Linked DNA regions of Homo sapiens. The protein of the gene in region 4 purifies or fractionates together with the protein of the main gene of each other region. This does not show direct contact. Each region holds a gene or a part of one and is shown on either strand. Other genes may lie near its edges.

Region 1 (7,040 bases), on a different chromosome or scaffold from region 4:
GATAATTTTCTATTTGTTCTACTCCATTAAAAATTGTAGTTATACATATTTAGTCAGGACCCAAGAAATTGATTTTATGACACAATAAATGTTTATGATCCAGTTTGAAAAACAAAGATATAATAAAACTCATCTATTATTCGACATATAATTAAATCTGTACTTAGATTATGTTTTCTTTCCAAGCACCCTTGAATTTTTACAGAAATTAAATATTAGGCCACAAAGAAAATCTGAGTTAATTTCCCCCAAAGAAGAAATACTACAGACCACATTCTCTGGTCACAAAACAGTGAAATTAGAAGTAAATGTTAACAAAAATATGCAAGCAAAATTTCTGCCAGTTGGAAATTTTTTAAAAAGAGACAAAACCTCATAAAAATGGCTTCTAAACAACTTTCAGGTCAAAGAGAAAACAACAACAACAAAAACACATCAAAATCTAGGATACATCATATATATGACACTATAAAAATTAAAATAATCTGGTAAATTAAGATTAGAGGAACAGATTAACAGACCCAAAGATGCAAACAAACATGGGAATTTTAGACTATAATGATGACATTTTAATGTAAGAAAAAGGATTTTTCAATAAATGAAAAACTGACTAGTAACTGGTGAATAATGAACAAAGGAGAAAACGATATCACCCTTTCTTTAGTCCCTATAATGAAATAAAATTCAGAGGAGATTTAAAGTTAAAAATCAACACGAAACCCAAAGTGAGATACAAACTCATGTCCATTATGTTGGCTATTATCAAAAACACAGGAAATAACAAGGTTGGAGAGGATGTGGAGAAACTGGAACCCACCACACTGTTGGCAGAAATGTAAAATGGTGGAGCACCTATGGAAAACGGTATGGAGGTTCCGCAAAAAATTAAAAATAGAATTACTATATGATCCAGCAATACCACTTCTGGGTATACAACCAAAAGAACTGAAAGCAGGGTTTCAAAGAGAATATTTACACATTCATGTTTACTGCAATACAATTCAAACAGCCAAGATGTGGAGGCAATCCAAGTGCCCATTGATGGATGAATGGATAAACAAAATGTGTATATACACACAGTGAAATATTATTCAGTCTTAAAAAGGAAGGAAATTCTGATATATGCTACAACATGGATGGATCCTGGGGATGTTATGCTAAGTGATGATTCCACTTTAATGAGATACTTAGAATAGTCAAATTCATAAAAAGACAACGTAAACGGTAGTTGCCGGGGGCTGGGGGAATCAGAAATGAGGAGTAGTTGTTCAATGCATAAAGAGTTTCAGTTTCACAAGATGAAAAGAGTGCTGGAGAATAGTTGCATGACAATGTATATGTATTGAACTGAATGTACTGAACTGTACACTTAAAAATGGTTGAGATGGTAAATTTTCTTATGTGTATTTTATCATAATTTTTAAAATTAACAGACATACTAGAGGAAAATATGAATGAGTATATTTATAGTGTGGTAATGCGGAATGCAGAAGACTTAGAGGAAAGGATGAACAAGGTGACCACATAAAAATCTAAAATTTTTCTATGGCAAACAACAAAGGGGGTGCTATGGTCTGTTTGTGCCCCACTCCCCAAAACGGTATGTTGAAATCTTAACCATTATGGTAATGGTATTAGGAGGTGACATTTGCTGGAGGGAGGAAGGGGTATTAGGTGATGGGGGCAGAGCACTCATGAATGGGATTAGTGCCCTTATAAAAGAGGCCCAAGAGACCCCTCACTCATTCAGCCACATGGGGTTAAAAGATTGTGGTCTAGGAATAGGGCCCTGAGATACCTAATCTTGCAGCACCTTGATTTTGGACTTCCCAGCCTCCAGAATTGCCAAGAGTAGATTTCTATTGCTTATAAGCTACCCGGTTCATGGTAGTTACAGCAGTTCTAACAGACTAAGACACGTGGAATTTAAGATATACTTACAAATAATTTATCGGAGAGACATGTATTAGAAAAACAGAAAAGCATAAAGAAACACAAAAAATCCAAATGGCTAGTAAATTTATGAAAACATACTTAAACTAAAAAATAAAGAAAAAGCAACAATAACATACTTTTGCCTATTAGCTTATTAAAGATAATAAAGGTCTGCAATATTTTAGACAGGTATGAAAAAGCAGACATCAAAACCAAGATGTAGTCTGATACAAACTAGTGAAATTTGTGTGTAGGGTGAAGTGACAATGACTAAAATAATATTTCTATCCCCCTCCTCCCCCCCACCCCCCTTTTTGGGACAGAATCTCACTCTGTTGCCCAGGCTGGAATGTAGTGTAGTGATCACAGCTTACCATAACCTCAAACTCCTGGGCTCAATCAATTCTTCTGTCTCAACCTCCCAAGTGGCTAGGACTACAGGTGCACACCACCACACCTGACTAATTTTTTCATTTTTTGTAGAGACAGGGTCTCACTACATTGCCCAAGCTGGTCTTGAACTCCTGGTCTCAAGCAATCCTCCTGCCTCGGCCTCCCAAAGTGCTGCGACTCTACAGGCATGAGCCACTGTGCCCAGCCAAATACATGCACATTTAAAATGCACTTAAGATTCCTACTTACTTTTGAGTACTTATTGTACTTTCTGTTACAACAATTCAGCACTAACCCTTTAACTAAGTATTGCTTTTCAATTAACATTAACAGACATTAAGAAACCACAATGACTATCTACAGGTTTAACGATGGCTCACATTTTGGCCACAGACACCTACAAAAAGACTGAGTATTGCGCAATGGTCACGGAATTATGAAGCTAAAATGATACATTCAGTATCATCATTCAAAGGATAATAACCATTTTAATGTGGGCAAGGAATACAGAAAACTAAGCAAAGCCAGGAGAAGACTGTAAGACCCAAACAGTTGACTTTTTACTCAAGATCATACAATCTGTATGTGGCAGAGCAATACTCTCAGGAAATCTTTCTGACGACTGGTATAGTTTTAAAAATGTCTCTCACTTATCAACAAGTGCTACTTTCAATATGACAACCACCTTGAAAAGGCAACCACTCTAGAGGACTAAATCTATTTCAGCAAAAAAAAAAAAATTCATCAAACATATACTAAAACTTTCCTCCATTCCGCCAATGCCAAAATAATCTATGAACCCATCTATTTTTATCTCCTTCAATTATCCCCCCCAGGGAAAATATGTCTTTATTCTTTTGCACAGTTAAACAGTCCAACTGTTCTTCAGTTCTCATCACTTGATGCCTCTCTTCAGATACCTCCCTCCCTCAGTCCTTCCCTCTCCACTAGCTTCTTGTCCTTGGTTAACAAACGCTTGGCCAGGTGCGGTGGCTCATGCCTGTAATCCCAGCACTTTAGGAGGCCGAGGCGGGCAGATCTCAAGTCAGGAGATTGAGACCATCCTGGCTAATACGGTGAAACCGGGTCTCTACTAAAAATACAAAAAAAAAAAATTAGCCCGGCGTGGTGGCGGGCACCTGTAGTCCCAGCTACTCAGGAGGCTGAAGCAGAAGAATGGCATGAACCCGAGAGCAGAGATTGCAGTGAGTTGAGATTGCGCCACTGCACTCCAGCCTGGGTGACAGAGTGAAACTGTCTCAAAAAAAAAAAAAAAAACAAAAGAACGCTCAATTTTCAATAATCCTGAAACATATTTTCTTGACATTACTTCCCAATCAGGTTACCTATTTCTCTCTTTCCTTTCCTGAATGAATAATCTCTATCTCATCACCATTCTACTGAAACTGTTAAAGGTTAGTAGTTACTTTTAATTCCAAGGAAACTGGTCACTGATCAGTCCCCACTCAACTTGACTTCTCTACAGGATTTGTTACTAGACAACTAAATACCAAACTAGGTATTTAGGTATCCAGGACACTATCATTTTCTATGACTATTCTAGTCATCCTTCAAATTTTTCATTGGTTTTCCTGCCCATTGTCAAATGATGTTTTTTATTGTACACCCTGCTTAGGACATTGATGAGTCCCAAGTTCTAGGGTTTAGACCACTCTCTGAGCTCTAATATTCAACCATCTACTACCTTGGTACTAAAATAGGATGGGTAATGCAAACACAACATAATTTTTAGTATCTTTCTCCTAAACTCACCTCTTAATTCAGTCCATGGTGTCAATCCTCCAGCTGTCCAAGCAAGGAACATTTGAGTTATCTGTAAATCCTCCACATTCAACTGATCACCTAATATCATCAAATGCGTATCATTTACAACTCCCCTCAGTTGCCTCCTCTGTCATCTCTACAGTCATTTCCCTACATTGAGGCTTCAATGAATACAACAGCTTCACTAATAGCATTTCCATAATGAAATGCTCTATGATGTGTACCAAATAAGATCTACCGTCCCTGACACAGGATATAAAGGCCCCTCACAACCCAATGGTTTACACTTCTATCTTTTCAGTTTCATCTATATTGTCTAAAACCTCCTGTTCTATAATCTGCCCCCAACCCTCCACACACATATTAGACTCTTGGAGGCAACATATATTTTCAACTCTCTCATCATTTGTTCACCCAGTAAACAATGATTTCATTGTTTAGAGTCCACTCCAAAGGTCATATCTCTGTGACTTTTTGTGATCCTCCCCTGAAGAATGGATAATTCAATCATTTGTGAATTACAGATAGTGATTCTACTTTGCTTAGTATTTTGCCCTATTATATGGTTTTATCACACCATACTATTTTAACTATATATTTACATACCATTTTCTCCTGGTGCTCTTGGAGGATCAGGCTTCACTCATTTTTATTCTTTATTCATAAAATATAGTAGGATCTCTCTTCCCTTTCACCTGCCATTATTTCAATCCCTCCAAACTCACTGTACTCCCAAAAGTCAAAGAAAAAAAGGAGAAATAATGTGTAAATAACAATCATTGACAACTTTGGGCACCGAGAAGAGTAAAATAAATCAGGGGGCAGAGGTTAAGTGTATGCCCTCAAATCCAAAGGCTGGCTGGGATTTAGAGGGGCATTAGGGAGGATGTCCTGTACCAAAAGAAGCTTCAAGCAACCATGGCCAAAGAACACCTGATGGCTAAAGGGACTATTTTAAGGTCCTATTTTAAAATAAAGGTGTGGTGGCTCATGTCTGTAATCCCAGCACTTTGGGAGGCCAAGGCAGGCAGATAGCCTGAAGTCAGGAGTTTGAGACTAGCCTGGCTAACATGGTGAAACCCTGTCTCTACTAAAAATACAAAAATTAGCCGGCTGTGGTGGTGTGCACCTGTAGTCTCAGCTACTTGGGAGGCTGAGGCAGGAGAATTGCTTGAACCCAGGAGGCAGAGGTTGCAGTGAGCCGAGATTGTGCCACTGCACTCCAGCCTAGGTAACAGAGCAAGACTCCATCTCAAAAAAATAATAATAAATAAATATGTATAGGGCTGGGCGTGGTGGCTCATGCCTATAATCCTAGCACTTTCAGAGGCCAAGGCACGTGGATCACTTGACGTCAGGAGTTTGACACTAGCCTGGTCAACATAGCGAAATGCCGTCTCTACAGAAAATACAAAAATTAGCCGGGCATGGTGGCATGAGCCTGTAGTCGCAGCTCCTCGGGAGGCTGAGGTATGAGAATCACTTGAACCCAGGAGGTAGAGGTTGCAGTGAGCCAAGATTCTGCCACTGCACTCTAGCCTGGGCCACACAGTGAGATTGTCTAAAAACAAATAAATAATAAATAAATTTTAAAAAATGTATAAAGTACTAATAATGCCCACTCATCATGCAATAATATTTACTTCAATGCACTTATTGAGGGCCTACGACAAGCCAGTCGTTGCCCTGAACAATGGAGATAAATAGGTGAACACAACAGATAAGGTCCTGCTCTCATGAATCATATGTTCTAACAAGGGAGTCACAACTATATAATGTAATGTTAGCTAGTGATACACAACTACATAATGAAAGGTTAGCTAGTGATAAATACTATGAAGAAAAATAACAGTAAAGCTGGGGTAGGGTGGGCTGGGGTGGGTGGCTATTTCACAGGGTGATCAAGGAAGGTCTTCTTAAAAAGGTGACATTTTACTGAGATTTAATGAAACAAAGCATCTGAGTCATATGCAAATATCAGCAGGAAGAGTCTTCCAGGCAAAAAAGCAAATTGGAAGAAGCAAAGATGGGACCTTGCTTGAAAGATTCAAGAAACAATGTGGTGGTGGCACAGTAACTGAAGGAGGGTCATAGGAAATGAAGTCAACTCACTAGATAAAATAACAGGATTAGTCAAAAAGAGTGATTACAGGTAATTTTGACTACATACAATTTCTGTCCTGTAAGCTGACTTAGTTTGACCTGACACTTTACTGTAAATAAACTAACGCAGCATTATCCCACAATGGGAGTATGAAAAGTTACCACATGATAAAGAAGTAAGGTCAATAGTCACATCCTATTTATAATTCACCAATTTTCATCTCCAGTCCTGACCTTAAAATCTAACTTCAGTATCTTGTCCTCTCCAGAGATCCAACACTCAATTCTGAATCCCCACTTCCTCAGCAATCCCTAGACCCCAGGCTAAATTAGCACTTGGGGGCAGGACCTTTGATTTTTATTCTTATTTATTTATTTATTTTGACATGGAGTTTTGCTCTTGTTGCCCAGGCTGGAGTGCAATGGCACAATCTCGGCTCACTGCAACCTCCACCTCCAGGGTTCAAGTGATTCTCCTGCTTCAGCCTCCCGAGTAGCTGGGATTACAGGCATGTACCACCATGCCCAGCTAATTTTATATTTTTAGTAGAAACGGGGTTTCTCCATGTTGGTCAGGCTGGTCTTGAACTTCCAACCTCAGCTGATCAGCCCGCCTCAGCCTCCCAAAGTGCTGGGATTACAGGGGTGATCCACTGTGCCCAGCCAGACCTTCGATTCTTATTTGAATTCTTAAAGACATTTACCTTTTTTTTTTTTTTTTTTTTTGAGATACAGTCTCTGTCCCCCAGGCTGGAGTGCAGTGGTGTGATCTAGGCTCACTGCAACCTCTGCCTCCCAGGTTCAAGCAATTCTTGTGCCTCAGC
Region 2 (7,040 bases), on a different chromosome or scaffold from region 4:
AAATCTATTTAATCAAAAACTCATTTTTACTCAGCTTTAATCTAAGGTGTCAGGCCTCTGAGCCCAAGCTAAGCCATCATATCCCCTCTGACCTGCAGGTACACATCCAGATGGCCGGTTCCTGCCTTAACTGATGACATTCCAACACAAAAGAAGTGAAAATGGCCTGTTCCTGCCTTAACTGATGACATTACCTTGTGAAATTCCTTTTCCTGGCTCATCCTGGCTCAAAAAGCTCCCCCACTGAGCACTTTGTGACCCCCACTCCTGCTCGCCAGAGAACAACCCCCCTTTTTCCTTTACCTACCCAAATCTTATAAAACGGCCCCACCCCATCTCCCTTCACTGACTCTTTTCAGACTCAGACCGCCTGCACCCAGGTGAAATAAACAGCCTTGTTGCTCACACAAAGCCTGTTTGGTGGTCTCTTCACACGGACGACAGTGAAATAAGGTGTTCAACAAAAAAAGCTAAATGTTATTGATACAGAATACAAGGAAACTGAGGTTTCATGAAATTAATGACAACTGTTTACACAGTTCCTGATCTGTAAAAGAACAGTAGTTCCTAGTATTGACCAAAGACTCCATTCAGTACCTAAGGTTAATTTTACCTGCATTATTTTGTGAAGGCGGGTCACATACACTTTGCTGATTACAGAACATCAAGATACAAAGCAGGTTACAGAAATGTTTCATTTCCCCTCGCCATTTCAAGGACTCACTGAGTTTACCCTGTCGCTTACAAGCATCACATTTGGCCATCTAAAAAGAAGAAGGTAGTCAAGGAGTAAGAAACAAATTATCTGTGGTCTGACAAAATAAAAATAAGACACACATAACAAGTGACGAAATTAACTTAGAATTTAGATCAAAAAATTAGTTTGTCTTTATCAATGATTATACACACACACACACACACACACACACATATATATATATATTTTTTTTTTTTTTTGAGACAGAGCCTTGCTCTATCGCCCAGGCTGGAGTGCAGTGGCGTGATCTCAGCTCACTGCAAGCTCCACCTCCTGGGTTCATGCAATTCTCCTGCCTCAGCCTCCCAGGTAGCTGGGACTACAGGCGCCCGCCACCACACCCAGCTAATTTTTTTGTATTTTTAGTAGAGACGGGGTTTCACCATGTTAGCCAGGATGGTCTCGATCTCCTAACCTCATGATCCACCCGCCTCGGCCTCCCAAAGTGCTGGGATTACAGGCGTGAGCCACCGCGCCCAGCTGATTTTATACTAATTTTTTTTAAAAAACACATGTAACATACAGACTTCACTCTATAGCAATTAAAAAACAAAGTGAAATAAAAATAAGGTCTATCTTCCTCAGACTTCAGAAGACAAATTCACTTTATTTAAATAATAAGTGAATAAAATTATAAGTTTAAATATTTTAATGTCTTAAGACTGATATGTCTCCTACAGGAAATTAAAAACAAAAGAAAACTTCAATAACATTAAAGTCTTTCTAAATCTTATATTAATTGCTAGAAGGCATAAAACATTTAATACTTAAAAGTTTTAAATAATTAAATTGTCCTTTATGTGACATGAAATTTTAAAAGGGAATAATTTATGCCCTAGAATGAAAAACCCAGGAATGTGAATTCTATTTACCTGATAGAACAAAACTGTATATTTGGACATGCATTCTTCACAACAGAACTCTTCCACTTTCCCTCCTAAATTATTCTGTACCAATTTGGGAGATGTCTGTAAACAATAACTGCACATTTTACAGTGATTTCCCCAGCGTTTTGCCAAGTCATGTTTATAAAGCAATTTGCAACCTAAAAATCAGGAAAGATAAAATTAACATTAGGTAGAAGTATTAGTTTTCTGCAACTTTAAATGGCCTAGGACAGGCCCGGTGCAGTGGCTCACACCTGTAATCCCAACACTTTGGGAGGCTGGCGGGAGGAGTGCTTGAGCCCAGGAGTTTGAGACCAGCCTGGGCAACATGGCAAGACCCCATGTCAAATAAAAACAAAAACAAAAAAAAGAAAAATAAGTGGTCTAGGACAAAGTTTTCACACTTGGGTCCTGACCAGTTCACAGAGTATCTTGATTTTTTAGAGTATCTATACTAGTTTTTGTTTTGCTTTGTTTTTGTTTTTGTTTTAAATGATATAAGACAGGATAGCACAGAAGAGAAAATATTAAACTGCATCGATTTTATTTCATGAAACTTTTGGGGCTGGGCGTAGTGGCTCACACCTGTAATCCCAGCACTCTGGGAGGCCAAAGTGGGTGGATCACCTGAGGTCAGGAGTTGGAGACCAGCCTGGCCAACATGGTGAAGCCCTGTCTCTACTAAAAATACAAAAATTAGCCAGGTGTGGTGGCGGGTGCCTGTAGTCCCAGCTACTCGGGAGGTTGAGGCAGGAGAATCGCTTGAACCCAGGAGGCAGAGGTTGCAGTGAGCCAAGATCGCTCCATGGCATTCCAGCCTGGGTGACAAAGCAAGACTCTGTCTCAAAAAACAAAAACAAAAACAAAAAAAACTTTTATTTAGGTATGTGAAAATATACTGGGTCACAGTGTAAATGTATTTCTTCTTTGGTGTTATCAAAAGGTTTGAAAGCCCTTGCTCTAGAAGGCTAATACAGCTTTAGAGTAAAATAAAACATTATAAACATATAGAAGAGTTATCTAAGGAAAACAATCTTCCACATATTAATTTGCATATTCAAGCCATTTATATTCAGAAATATAATGGCTGTTTAAGACAATAAAAGTATAAACTTAGAATGTTACCATAATTTAAGGCATCCCATTTAGAAATAAGTACACGAACTAGAAGCTCTTTGAGGTCCCGATCAACCTAATAATGGGGAACCTAAGGATGTTAAATGTTTTTCACATCATCTTCTTCTGCATTATACTTTGCAAATCTTTCACTTCATTTTAACAGCTACATAATATAAGAAAACTAGATCAAAAAAGAATGAACTAAGTGTAAATGAATCGAAAAGGCATTTACGTTATACATAAACAATAAAACAGATTAACTTAGACAGTGAAAGCTTAAATCATCATCAACTGCTTTAAAACAACCAACATGCTCAGTAGGTAAGATAATCTTCTGTCTTTACCTTCACTACAGAATGACTTGTCAGCACCTGAGAACCGAACAGTCTCCTTTACAATTTTCTCAATTTTACAATATTCACACATTGCCATTACATTATTTATTTTCTTATATTCATCAGAACAATTCTTGCCACAGAACTGAAACATTTTGCCCTGCAAAGAAATAATCATTAAGTACTAATTAAACATTTGGTTTGTCTTATGGAACTCCTTATCTCCCTTACTTTCAAAACAAATGGTATGATTTTGAGAGATGCAAAGTTAAAAATAATTTTACAAATAGACCCACGTATACTCAAAATCTTATCATGAACATGCTATACTTTACCTTATAGTCAAGAAGTTCTGGTTTTGTGGCAAAAAGACGGTTACAGTGTTGACATTTGAGTTTCACAACACTTCGTGCAAACCCAACATGCTGGGACTGGGCAGCGAGACGCTGGAGACCAGCTGCAGCAGAGCTACTGATGGAGGTGGGAGAAACAGCAGATGTGCTACCTCCTCCGGCTGACACTGTGGAACCTGTGGGGATGCTTACAATTACTTGGCCCTGAGACAAGGGCACTACTGAAGAATTCATTCCAGTTGGTTTGTTGAATAAATTCTGGAAAAACAAAACAACAAAAAGTATCAATTTAATCTTTGTTAAAACAAAGAAGTATTGTGTGCCTACATATGCCAAGCACCGTTCTAGGCATGTAAGGTACATCTGTTAACAGGCAATGTTCCTGCCTCTGAGCAGCTTATTACGGAATGGGGGGAGTCTCATTTATGATGAAAAAATAAAATAACTTAACTAATAATCTTCCTCAAAAATAATATCCTCCCAATAGATAATATGGGTGATAAAAGTACCATTCAATTTTATAGAAGGCAGTTAAATTAAATTCCAAATACAGAATGAACTACAAATCCAAGTTTAATAGGAATGATATAGAAACTTATACAACCCAGGCCCTAGCAAACACCTAATAAATGTGCATTACTATAGTAGGTGATAGGTTTGAATTCGTGTCCCTGCCCAAATCTCATGTCCAGTCGGTAATCCCCAATGTTGGGGGAGGAGCCTGGCAGGAAGTGACTGGATCATGGGGGTGGATTTCTCCCCTGCTGTTCTGGTGATAGTGAGTTCTCACTATCTGGTTGTTTAAAAGTGTAGCACCTCCCGCTTCTCTCTCTTCCTCTTGAGCCCATCATGTAAGACGTGCCGGCTTCCCCTTCGCCTTCCGCCATAATTGAAAGTTTCCTGAGGCCTCTCCAGCCATGCTACCTGTACAGCCTGTGGAACTGTGAGCCAATTAAACCTCTTTCTTTATAAATTACCCAGTCTAGGGTATTTCTTTAGAGGAGTGCAAGAACAGACTCATACAGTAGGTGACTCACTGACTGAAGAAGAGGAAGGTTCCTGAAGCCATACCTGGAAAGCTACCACACAGCTGTAGCTGCAGAAGTTGCGTATACTTCCATCTGACATGGCTAGGTGATACTGAGGAATTGCTGAGGTTTTACAACTGTTACACTGAACTTGTACACCTTAGCAAATCAAAATAAAAACCAATGAGTAATATGTACAAATGTACACAAAAGTATGAGAAATTAAATAATACTATACAATATAAGAAAATTTAAGAGCCAGGGTAAGTTGTAGGAACTGAAACTAAATCATGTCACATATAGACAAAAACTAACATAATACTGAAAATGTTTCTTTCCAATTTAAATTGGTCAAAGTCTACCCTGAAACTACCAGATAAATGAAACTTCAAAGAAATTAGGTAGGGAAAAAGAAAATATATTAAAGAAGCCATATGAAATTCTTTTGGTAAGGGGGAAATGCATAAATAGGTATGCAAGTAAATAAATAAGCAATCAAGGTAACAGGTGATATTTTACAACAAATATCTGAAATATGTTAAATGTGCCTTAAAAATCAACCAAAAAAAACCGTTAAAAACAAAGCAATAACCATTATTTTTCAACCATTGCATTTCATAGTTTGTGAAACCAATATTACCTGCAGAAGTAACCATTTTAACTCTGTAAGCAGATAAGCAATTAACAGAACAGAAAAGCTCTGTCTTCCCCAAGCTATTGGTATTTTCAATCATTTCTGCTGAGGATCTCAATGATTTGCAAAGCGCACACGGTGTAATTTTGGCTGATTTCTATTAAGAGAATAAAACAACATTCATTTTTAACAAATTCCTAGTAAAAGCATAATTCTTCGAAATGTTTATACTCAACACTTTTGAAATATTTGAAATCAGTGATTTTCAAACTTTTATGATTGTAATCCTCAATAGGAAGTTTCATGGTACACATGTACTTCTGAGATTTTGCATTTGTGTATGATGCATGTATGTAATAAAACTAAAAAGTTTTATAGAGGAATAAATATCATGATAACATGTAATGCACTTTGATATTTTCCAATCTATTCTATTTCATTGAAAAAGTAATGCGGCCAGGCGTAGTGGCTCACCCCTATAATCCCAGCACATCGGGAGGCCGAGGTGGGTGGATCACCTGAGGTCAGGAGTTCAAGACCAGCAAGGTCAACATGGTGAAACCCTGCCTCTACAAAAATACAAAAAAAATTAGCCAGGCATAGTGGCAGGCGCCTGTAGTCCCAGCTATTCAGGAGGCTGAGGCAGGAGAATGGCGTGAACCAGGAGGCAGAGCTTGCAGCGAGCTGAGATCGTGCCACTGCACTCCAGCCTGGCGACAGAATGAGAAGATTCCACCTCAAAAAAAAAAAAAAAAAAGAAAAAGAAAAAAATAATAATGCTGGTTATAACCTAGTAATTAATTTCAGGGTCTATTAATAGGTCATAACCACAGTTTTAAAAACATTAAATAACAGCAAGTTCATGCTTTTATACTATATCATCCTATAAATTGAAATAACCCCCTCCAAAGGTGCTTGTAAATATGAATTTAAGGAAATTAGTAACCTTATTAGGCAACTTATTGGCAAATATTCTACCACTAATAATAAAAAAAATACTCCATAAGCGTAAAGTAAGAGCAAACCTGGGATATCATCACAGGTGTCCAAATACAAACAACCAGAGTCCGTTATCTTAAGTCTTCACCCAATTAGGGATTCAGCAGCAAATAATGCTAAGTATTATTAACATGTCACACATTCAGGATAATTTTTAAAGTACGTCCAGCACCAATTAGGAGATTTTAAGAGCAATCTTCCTTCTTAAAGAATCAATTTGTAAAACTTGATATTAAAATAAATACACAGTAAAGTGAATATATGCCTGAATTCTGGAATGTCTTCTAAATCTCTAACCCCATTTCCCTCTCCTCCCTAATGAGGACTGTAAAAGCAAACCTCATTTGTAAGACCCAGATCAAGAGTTACCTCTGTGAAGCTTCTGCTGATAGTCTCATCTTTCCCTATCAAGTAGAGCTCACTATGCTACCTCTGTGGCCCACTGTACCCATAATACTTCCATCATAGCATCTCTATTTACTCATTTATACGTCTTATCTTTCTCAGGAGACAGGCAGCCCCTCAAAACAGAAATTATATCTAATGTTTGTTGAATGAATTATATATAAGGAAGAAAGGAAGGTAGCAGAAATGACCATCTACAATGCCTCAGTTACATACTAGGCATTCTTTCATTCTTACTTTCTATAATCCTAAAAACATCCCAGTGACATAGGTGGTATCATAGTTATTTACAGACAGAAAAACTGGGACTCAGGGAGCTTAACTGCTTTCCCCAAGGTAAAACTGTATTTGAACATAAGGTCTAGAATTAAATGTAGATCTGCCTTACTTCTAAATTCCAGTTCTTTCTCTACCACAGCAGATATAATACATGAAAAATTTAATAGGTTTTGACTAAATTAAAAGTAAAGAATAAATTTAAAATTAAGATGTTTCATCCTATTTCTCCCTCTCTTGTGGACTA
Region 3 (2,580 bases), on a different chromosome or scaffold from region 4:
AGGGTTTTTTGTTTATTTGTATGTTTTTATATGAAAGTACATAAATGACAGACTACCTCCAAGTAATCCTGCTTTAATTAATAGCAGTGATTTGTAATCAGTGTATCTTTTAAGATTCTCTACAGGTTTTAGAAAATATTAAAAATTCCCTGTAATTTACATTTGTGCATAATCTTGGAAATGGGTTGAAAAGCAAAGGTAAACTGCTTCATCCCATGTTGTATATTTGTGGACTGATTGACTACAAGTGATGTGATGTTATAAATTTGAAGTCTTTGAAACTTTATTAATGTAGAGAAAACATAACTAGCTTTTTAGGTTATTTCAAAGTTAGTAATAGAGCAAAGGAAATCAGAACTGGCCAGATATTCAGACTTGACTTAGAAAAACAGGAGTTTGTTGATTTTGTTTGGAGAAGGGCACAATAAAGGGGAGCCCACATAGCATTATAATGCCTAGTATCTTTAAACATGTAAAGAGCTATCATGAGGCAGAAGAATTAAGAAACTTTATATGTTTCTAAGGGGTCATGATTGGGACCATTGGCTCAAGATTGAAAATCGGTTTTTAATTATCCAAAGATGAAATGGGGCTGCTTCAGAAAAAGGTCTACCACTGGAGATAACGCTATGAAAAGTGAAAGAGATTACTTAATCATTTTGACAAAGGCAGTATTGACCAGACATTTCTATTTCAGAGTTGGATTTGTGCTTAGTTTTTTTTAGGTGTTGGGACCCTTGTAGTTGCTTTTTATTTTGCTTAGTCAACAAACACTAAAATGATAAAATTTGGTATGTATAAGTACTGGACGAAGGATGTTTTGACACTAAAAAGGACATAATTTAGGAAATTAAGAATTTAGACACCAAGTTTGGCTTAATAGAAAAAGTCACTATCTGAACTTCTTTCTTTTTCACCACAAATCACCGCAGACCAGTGTTTGGGAGCAGGTGTAGGAAATTGAATTATTGGATCTATGTTTAGGTAAGAAAACTAAAGGTACTTCAGAATTTAGGCTATGACATAACTGTCTTTCTGAAGTTTAAAGAAAGAAAGTGAACTATAGAAATCTATTCAGCTAATTAAAGTGAATGAAAAATATTACAGATTCCATAACTGCATGGCGCCTTACCTGCTATTAATACTGCCGCCTTACTGTCAGCCAGATGATTTTTTCCCACCACGGCCAGTCTTAAATTTGGCAATAAGAAAAAGCTAATCTTCCAAGTGTAAGTAGGTATGTGTTAGAATCTTGGTGAAAGATAAACACAAGACAGTCTTCTTGGCGCAGGTCCTAACAGTTGGTGAGATAATACATAAGATGGTTTCAGGATTATTGTAGAATTATTTAGGTTGAAAGAGACTGTAAGAGACTAATGAAGCATACCCAGAGAGGTTGCTACAGTGACTCCAGTCAGTTTTAGGACCCAGGACTCCTGAACTTCAATTTCAGTATTATTTTTCTGTACCAAACTCATTCAATAAATACTTGAGATTAGGGATAAGTTTGAAGTTAGAAGATTCCAGAGTACACTCAAATAGTATTTGGCACATAGCTTGTTGATCAAAAGTATTTACTAAGTGAGTGACAAAAGGCACTAGCAACTTTAAGGATTTTGCCTATTAGTATCATATGGCATGTAGCTATCAAGCCAGTTTCGTTTAGTTATTTTGTGTTGCCAAGCATATGATACGTGGTGTCACACTGAGCCTTTGGGATCCTTTCCCTGGATACATAACCCTAGTAGATAATGTTACTGCAAGATGTAATGACCAAATCCAACCTACTGCAAATGTTACTATGGAAATCTCAATGCAAAAGTAGCCTTTGTGATTTTTTTTTTAAACCGTCTCCATAACAGAACACTTAGAATTATTAGCCATTTGCTGCAAAGTATTTGTTTTAAAATGTCTGGCATATACACCACTAACATTTAAATGCCCAACATTCGGTCTATACGTGAAAAAACTAGAAGAAAAGCCCTGTTGGAGTTTTGATGTAGAGTGCAATAATACATCAATAAAGGTATTTTAAAATGACCTAATGTTTTAGTTGCCAACATGATTTTTGTATTTGTAAAGAGGTATGTTGGGTTTTGGCATTTATATTTTACCGTATGAAAGACATATTCATGTAAAAGGTAATGTGAAGCTTAGCATCTCTTGTCAACCTGTCCCCTGTTTCCAAGTAGTCTCCTTGGATATTTGTAGCATCTGGATTCCTAATAATCCAGATAATTAGGATTATGGCATTTATGTACAGACATGGGTAATTCTCCAAAGCAGATCTTCCCACACTAATTTTTCAAGTACTTGTCACCTAAATCATTAATAAAATGTGCCAATTCCAAATAATAGCAAATGTAGGAATTGAATCAGCATCCCAGAGTACTAGTCCTGGGCCATATCCTCATTAGGCAAAGGAAATTTGAAGAAGTTATTTTAGGACTTTACCTAAGGTGAAGTCTAGAATTTTACATATGTAGGTATGTTTTTGTTAGTCTTATATTTGCCTAAAAGTTATACGTTTTATTATTTCATAGGCGTAAATATGTTTTTATTAAAATCTTAGATTAGACT
Region 4 (7,552 bases):
CCGAGTAGCTGGGGCTATAGGCACCCGCCACCACGCCCAGCTAATTTTTTTGTATTTTTAGTAGAGACGGGGTTTCACCATGTTGGCCAGGCTGGTCTCGAATTCCTGACCTCAGGTGATCTGCCCTCCTTGGCCTTCCAGAGTGTTGGGATTACAGGCGTGAGCCACCACACCTGGCCTATCCACTTTTAATTAAGCTAACTTTTAACCATAGTGCTCTTTAAAAAAGAAATCCTTTCAAATCTCTTATTACCCAACTTTAGCCATGCCAAGAAGCCAATATTTCTAACTTCTGAACTTTACCAAAGGTTATCTCCTACGTGCATAGAGAAAGGAAAATTTAAGACAGTCTGCGGAGGAGAAGAGACTAGACAAGGTCACGCAGATATTAAACCAGAAATGACTTACTTCCTAGGTGGGGTATCAAACCCAAACTGCCACTGTGAAAGTGCAGAAACCTTAGTTACTGAGCTACAGTGTGGGACGGTGCCTACTTCCTTTCACAGAAGCCTAGAGTAGTTAATTTTGAGCTTGCAAAGGCTTTTAACTATTTTATATGATTTTTAGAGCTGACTATGACATGAACCCTAAAATTCCTTTTCCCTAGTAGGTGGAGACCAAGAGAAGGTACTGCCACATGGTTAAAAGGTCAGGCTCCCAAGGACATAAAACAAGGGGAGACTTCATCCTGTTTGTTTGTTTCAGGGACCTGCAGCTGTTTGTTACTGACCAGTTTGCTGGGTCATGTTGAAAAGTGGGCTCACAGGTGTTCTAAGCCCATGTTTCATCCTACAGAAAAACAAATTCACAGCACAAAATACACCAGTTTGACTAGCTTAGAATTCTTTTTCATATTAATCAAAACTTTACAGAGGAGATACACACTGATTTATTATTTTTATTATTGTTATTATTTTTACCATTCATTCAACCGTTTGCACAGAGAGGGAGAAGTCAGAAATCTGACTGGTAACAAATTCTTACCTTTTTGCTGGCATGCCAGGCTTCTGTGTTCCCTTTCTCTGAGTGGTCCCAGTGATCTGGCTTGTGGCACCATCGCCCTGGGGGCCAAGCCTCATTGTAAAGGAAAACTACTTTTTTTCATTCTGACCAGAGCAAAACACATGTGATGAAACATACACATTAGCCACTCTGCTTAGCACCCAATATTAAACTGGCAAGGCTTAAATTTGCCCCCAGATAGGCCCTGTCATCTTTAATCCAACCTCTGACTTGGAGTTTCAACATGTGGTCTCTGGGCAAGATGGTCGCCCTGAGTAATAGAGTAATAGAAAAGATAAGAAAGGGGCCGGGCGCAGTGGCTCACGCCTGTAATCCCAGCACTTCAGGAGGCCGAGGCGGGCAGATCACAAGGTCAGGAGATCGAGACCATCCTGGCTAAGATGGTGAAACCCCGTCTCTACTAAAAATACAAAAAATTAGCCGGGCATGGTTGCAAGCGCCTGTAGTCCCAGCTACTCGGGAGGCTGAGGCAGGAGAATGGCCTGAACCCGGGAGGTGGAGCTTGCAGTGAGCAGAGATAGCGCCACTGCACTCCAGCCTGGGCGACAGAGCGAGACTCCGTCTCAAAAAAAAAAAAAAAATTATATATGGAAATGCTTTCGCAGGCAATACTTTCCCAGGAAATATTTTCCACAAGCAATACTTTCCCAGGGAAGGCAAAATGATCAGGGAGGCCAGAGAAAGACCCACCCATTGCAGTGACACTGAAAAGTTCAGGCGGCTACGGCTGCTGTCGTGAAGGGATTTTTTTCCAGCAGTCCCGTCAGCTCTCAAGTTTCCCCTTTTGGGGGAGGAAAAAGCTCCCCATGTCCCACGATCCTGTACACGCCTAACCCTGTCGCCCGGAGCCATCAGCAAAGAGTGCAAGGCAGATTAATCCAAAGACAATAGCAGTTAACATCCCACGGTGCCAAACCTCTTCTTAGCCAAGAGGGACTTTACTGAGAGGGGTCTCTAACCCCCTAAATCTTAGAAGGGACTCTAATCCTCCTAAGTTGGGCCTCTAACCCAAGGTCAGTCAAGCGTCCTTGCCTTTTATTAAGAGGGGCCTCTAATCCACTCTGCCTTAGGAGAGACTCTAACTCCCCTAACTTGAGCGTCTATCCCAATCCCATTCTTTACCTGGGTACCCCACCACTTACCCAAAGTCATCCAATCAGTGCTGCAGTCTATTTCCTTTGAGTCAGGGGGGTCTCCTCAGCATTGTCCCTTTTGTGGTTTGCGAGAAAAGTGTTACCCGACCCCACCACTTACCCAAAGTTAGCCTTTGGGTCACGGGTTCCTGCAGTATAGTCTCTTCTGTAGTGGCCAGGAATGTGTTACAGGAAAGGGGTCCCAATCCATATCCCAAGAGAGGGTTCTTGGATCTCGCACAAGAAATAATTCAGGGCGAGTCCACAGTGCAAGTGAAAGCAAGTTTATTAAGAAAGTAAAGGAATAAAGAATGGCTACTCCATAGACAGAGCAGCCCCAAGGGTTGCTGGGTGCCCATGTTTATGGTTATTTCTTAGTGACTTGCTAAACAAGGGGTGGATTGTTCATGCCTCCCCTTTTCAGACCACATAGGGTAACTCCCTGACATTGCCATGGCATTTGTAAACTGTCGTGGCACTGATGGGAGTGTAGCAGTGAGGAAGACCAGAGGTCACTCTTGTCACCATTTTGGTTTTGGTGGTTTTGGCCAGCTCCTTTACTGCAACCTGTTTTATCAGCAAGGTCTTTATGATCCGTATTTTGTGCTGACCTCCTATCTCATCCTGTGACTCAGAATGCCTTAACTGTCTGGGAATGCAGCCTAGTAGGTTTTAGCTTCATTTTACCCAGCTCCTATTTAAGATAGAGTTGCTCTGGTTCATATGCCTCTGAAAAAACCATTTAAATTTAATTATAAGAGTCTGGCCAGAGGGGGTGGCTCACGTCTGTAATCCTAGCACTTTGGGAGGCCGAGGTGGGTGGATCACCTGAGGTCGGGAGTTTGAGACCAGCCTGAACAACATGGAAGAACCCTGTCTCTACTAAAAATATAAAATTAGCCAGGCGTGGTGGCGCACACCTGTAATCCCAGCTACTCAGGAGGCTGAGGCAGGAGAATCGCTTGAACCCGGGAGGCGGAGGTTGCAGTGAGTGGAGACTGTGCCACTGCTCTCCAGCCTGGGCAACAAGAGTGAAACTCCATCTCAAAAAAAAAAAAAAAAAAAAAAAATTTAAGAGTCACAAATATGTGAAAAAGAGAATGATGTCTTTATCAATTTTCAAAAATTACTATTGCCAGTGATGAATAACAGTGTTCCTTGCACACTAATTTAGCCAAAAATATTTCTCCAAAAGTACCGCATCGTGTAGGAAATTGACTCCATCTCCATTCCTTGACTATTTTCAATCTCAAAATTAAATCTCTTGGAGAGTACTTTCTGCACACCTTTCTATTTCCTTAACCATATATATCGTCAAACCATTGAAAGCTGGACTTTATTCTCTCACTTTCATAGTCATGAAAAGAAAAAAAAAAAGTTACTGATGGGGACTCCTAAGACTTCGCATAATATAATCTTTGCATAGTCTAGGATTGTTAAAATTCCTAACAAGACTTTATAAACTCTCCTGTCTGCAACCAGTTAATGCTGGGTTGGGCCAGGGTTCCCCTCTTTCCCGTCACTTATCCATCTACGCTCATTCTTTTCATAGCCTCACCCAATATCATGACTTGAAGTAACAGTTTACAGTAATAACTCCCAAATTTATATATCCACGCTCGAACCCTCTGCCAATGTTGAATCATAGGTTGAGTATATGGCACTACGCTTTGTGGTCTTACTGACGTTTCAAACTGATCATGCTTGAAATGGGAGTACTGGGCTTCCCGGCAAGCCTGCTCCACTAGCAGCCTCCCCACCTCAGGGTACGGGAAGTCCACACGTGGCGAACGCGAAGCCTATTACATCACCCGGAAGTCCCTGCATCCTACGAAGGCTGGGCCCGGCCAAAGGAGGCCCAATAGAGGGCGGTCTGTCCTTTCCCAGCAGGCTGGGCACACTGTCAGGCGTCCTCCTTTGGGTGGCTATTTTAACTGCTCATTTATCCTTTTCTTCTATGAAAAGATCCAGAAAAGAGGCAAAGCAAGCGAGAAGTCGCGGGCCCAGCCCACAGCAGGGTAAGCACCTTTGTTCGGGGTCTGAATCGGGGCGAATATCCCCGCCTCCTGACCTCGATTTTCCTGAGCTAGAAGGGACCTTTCGACCCTCCGACTTGTGCCTATACTAAGGCGGTGGCCCTAAGACGACGCGGGGGTTCTGGTGCGCACTTACGTGCAGTCGGATGCGCTGGGTGAGTTCCCACACCCGGTAGATGTAAGGGAAAAACTGCATTACCCAGAAGGCACTGCCCCTTGCGTCGGCCGCGGACTCTGGGCCATTGACGACCCAGGACAGGAGAGTTTTCTGCGGGCCAGGGCGGCGGAGGCGGGACTTCCGCTTCTTCGTGTGACGTCATCTCCGTGGGCCGGTTTGGCCCTGAAACAGTGTGGGGCCTAGAGCGCTGGGTGGGCGCGTTCTGCGGCCTGAGCAGGGACGGGTAGTGAAGCGGTTACGCCCCTTCTTCGCGTCTTGGCGGGAGCCTGACGCCCCGCTTCTCCCCTAACGAGGTGTCCCACCGGCGCCCGCCGAGGCCTAGGCCTCCGCAGCCGCCCTCCGTCTCCTCAGCCCCGACGCTGCGCCTTGGGCCTTGTGCGCATTTTTTTCGGGGGAAAACTGAGGCTCGGAGTGCGAAAGTCAGCCGAGGTCGCCCCGCCCAGGACAGAGAAGGGCTGTGGTCGGCTGATCCGCGGCATTCCCGGGATGGCGGCGGCGTGGATGGCTCCGGCGCAGGTGAGTGGACGAGGTTTCGGCCTTGCTGCTGCTGTGCTATTTCTAGAGGCCTCGTGGGCAGGCTGGAAGCCAAGACAGCCACAGGATTTTTCTTTGTCGCCATCGTTTATTTAAGAGAAATGGCCGTGGCTTGTCATTTCCTTTATCCGCAGTCCTGCAACAGTGTTGGCCTCTGATAGGTGTTCAGTCCGTGGTTGAAGGAGTGATGCTTCCTTCTAGGGATCTCATCACACTTCCCCTAAATCCAACCTTCTCTGTTGCCTGCCAGCCCGTACCCCATCCACCTGGCCAACCACCCCTGACCTTGTCTGTTTGCATTTTTCCCTGGTCCTTTGCTCTTCAGAGCCACCAACCTGACCGTGCAGTCCTCTTCCATTTTCCAGGCTTTCTCCTTGCACTTCCTTTTACTTCGAACACTGCCCCTGTAACTTTGCAGGGCCTCCCTTTCACATCCTTTTGGCATCTGTCCAGGTGTCACCTATTTGGAGGTGCCTTTTTTGGCAATTCCGGCTAAAGTGGCACCTTACACCCTTGCCCAGAGTCTGGTATTTTTGTGTAGATAATCTGATGGTATTAAAGAAGCTTGTGGATTTGAGTTTGTCAAGGATGTAATGGGAACAAAGAAAAATAATTGCAAAGAATGATATTAACTGTCATTGAGTCCTTGCTGTGGGCTGATCGGTGAGTATTATTTAACCCTCAGTTCGTTTAACCCTGAAATTTTTTTTTTTTTTTTTTTTTTTTTTTGAGACGGAGTCTTGTTCTGTCGCCCAGGCTGGAGTGCAGTGGCGTGACCTCGGCTCACTGCAACCTCCGCCTTTTGGGTTCAAGCGATTCTCCTGCCTCAGCCTCCTGAGTAGCTGGGACTACAGGTGTGCGCCACCACGCCTGGCTAATTTTTGTATTTTTAGTAGAGACGGGGTTTTACCGTGTTGGCCACGCTGGTCTTGAACTCCTGACCTCAGGTGATCCACCCATCTGGGTCTCCCAAAGTGCTGGGATTACTCTTTAGAATTAGGTTCTGTTGTCATCATTGTTTTACACAAGAGCAATTTGAGGGTCACATACGTCCAATTACCTGCCTTACATCACTGTAGCTCTTAAGTTTCTTAAGTCAGAAACTAACAACTGGTGTGTCTAACATCATAGCCTGTGTTTTTACCCTCTTCTTTACCCGCAGTGGTTAGGGAGGCCTGGGGGTGAGACCTAAAGTAACCTTTGCAAGATGAGGCCTCCTTCTAGCCAGTGATCTTGGGCATGAGGAGTCATGGCCTTTCATACTGGTGGAACTGTGTAGACTTAAAAAATGGTATATTGGTTGTTTAAGGAGTTCTCAGGGGACCTGTGTGGCTTCCACGGTGGTTTTATATGTGGTTCCCCTTACTCCCTTACCTGCTGACATATTCTGAGAGGGCACGTTTGTATGGTTATGTTGCTGAATGTACCCTCCTACTCAGCCAGGATAGATGTAATCTCCAGATGGGCCCATATTGTCTTGGCTACAACCTGCTGTGCCCTCTATGACTCTTGTTGCTTGCTCATGGAATCTTCTGGCCTCAGGGATGCCTGCTAGTAGGACTTAGGTAGAAAAGGAAGCGATGGCTCATTGTGAATTCTCCCTGGAAGCAGGTCCAGGCCCTAACACCTGATCAGGTGTCACCACGTCAGGTGATTCTTTGGTGAGGTGGATGATGATGACTACACTTCTCTGCCCTTGTCCATGGGAGTGGCTGAAATGTATATGTGGATTTGAAATGCTTCATTCTCATTAACTGCATTAACTTTGCTAATAGAGAAATGTCAGGTTACATAATCAGACCAGAGGGCCCTGGGCTTAAATCCTGCCTCTGTTGATAAGACCTGTGACTTTGGGCTGGGCTTGGTGGCTCACACCTGTAAACCCTGCACTTTGGGAGGCTGAGGTAGGTGGACTGCTTGAGCCCAGGAGTTCAAGACCAGCCTGGGCAACATGGGAAAACCCTGTCTCTACAAAAAGTACAAAAAATTAGACCGGCATGGCATCATGTGCCTGTAGTCCCAGCTGTGCAGGAGGCTGAGGTGGGAGGATCACTAGATCACAGGAGGTCAGGGTTGCAGTGAGCCGACATTGTGCCACTGCATTCCAGCCTGGGTGACAGAGTGAGACCATCTAAAAAAAAAAAAAAGAGAGAGACATGAACACATGAGACTTTGGGTAGACTGGTAGAGCGGAGGGTAGGACTGAGGCCCAGGTCTCAGGTCCCTGAGTGTGACATAGAGATGATGATGGTAAATTCAGATGCTGTGGCCTTTGCCTCAGTGTTTGTTTGTTTTTTTTTTTTTTTACAAACAGTTTTTCTTTCTTTCTTTGTTTTGATGGAGTCTAGCTCTGTTGCCAGGCTGGAGTTCAGTGGTGCGATCTCGGCTCACTGCAACCATCGCCTCCGACGTTCAAGCGATTCTCCTGCTTCAGCCTCCCGAGTAGCTAGGACTACAGGCACACACTACCACACCCAGCTAATTTTTGTATTTTTAGTAGAGATGGGGTTTCACCTTGCTAGCCAGGATGGTCTCAATTTCCTGACCTCATGATCTGCTCACCTCAGCCTCCGAAACTGCTGGGATTACAGGCATGAGTCACCGTGCCCAGCCTACAAACAGTTTTTCTTTAGTTCTTTTGACTATTC

The links.
Region 1: the proteins of ZNF460 (region 4) and SMARCAD1 purify together in Homo sapiens (affinity purification with mass spectrometry; 2 studies listed by BioGRID and IntAct, with this or other methods). This does not show direct contact.
Region 2: the proteins of ZNF460 (region 4) and ZMYM4 purify together in Homo sapiens (co-immunoprecipitation; 2 studies listed by BioGRID and IntAct, with this or other methods). This does not show direct contact.
Region 3: the proteins of ZNF460 (region 4) and ZBTB10 purify together in Homo sapiens (co-immunoprecipitation; 2 studies listed by BioGRID and IntAct, with this or other methods). This does not show direct contact.

What each region holds. Positions count from the first base shown.
Region 1 is NC_000004.12:94,210,832-94,217,871, reverse strand, and holds part of SMARCAD1 (SWI/SNF-related matrix-associated actin-dependent regulator of chromatin subfamily A containing DEAD/H box 1), read right to left. Parts: intron 4,838-7,040; exon of another isoform or gene 4,720-4,837; intron 4,135-4,719; exon of another isoform or gene 4,102-4,134; intron 1-4,101. UniProt on the Homo sapiens protein: DNA helicase that possesses intrinsic ATP-dependent nucleosome-remodeling activity and is both required for DNA repair and heterochromatin organization.
Region 2 is NC_000001.11:35,383,672-35,390,711, reverse strand, and holds part of ZMYM4 (zinc finger MYM-type protein 4), read right to left. Parts: intron 5,271-7,040; coding exon 5,120-5,270; intron 4,639-5,119; coding exon 4,523-4,638; intron 3,710-4,522; coding exon 3,434-3,709; intron 3,259-3,433; coding exon 3,108-3,258; intron 1,803-3,107; coding exon 1,630-1,802; intron 765-1,629; coding exon 614-764; intron 1-613. UniProt on the Homo sapiens protein: Plays a role in the regulation of cell morphology and cytoskeletal organization.
Region 3 is NC_000008.11:80,524,226-80,526,805, forward strand, and holds the end of ZBTB10 (zinc finger and BTB domain-containing protein 10), read left to right. Parts: 3' UTR 1-2,040; downstream 2,041-2,580. UniProt on the Homo sapiens protein: May be involved in transcriptional regulation.
Region 4 is NC_000019.10:57,275,951-57,283,502, forward strand, and holds the start of ZNF460 (zinc finger protein 460), read left to right. Parts: upstream 1-4,534; 5' UTR 4,535-4,856; coding exon 4,857-4,886; intron 4,887-7,552. UniProt on the Homo sapiens protein: May be involved in transcriptional regulation.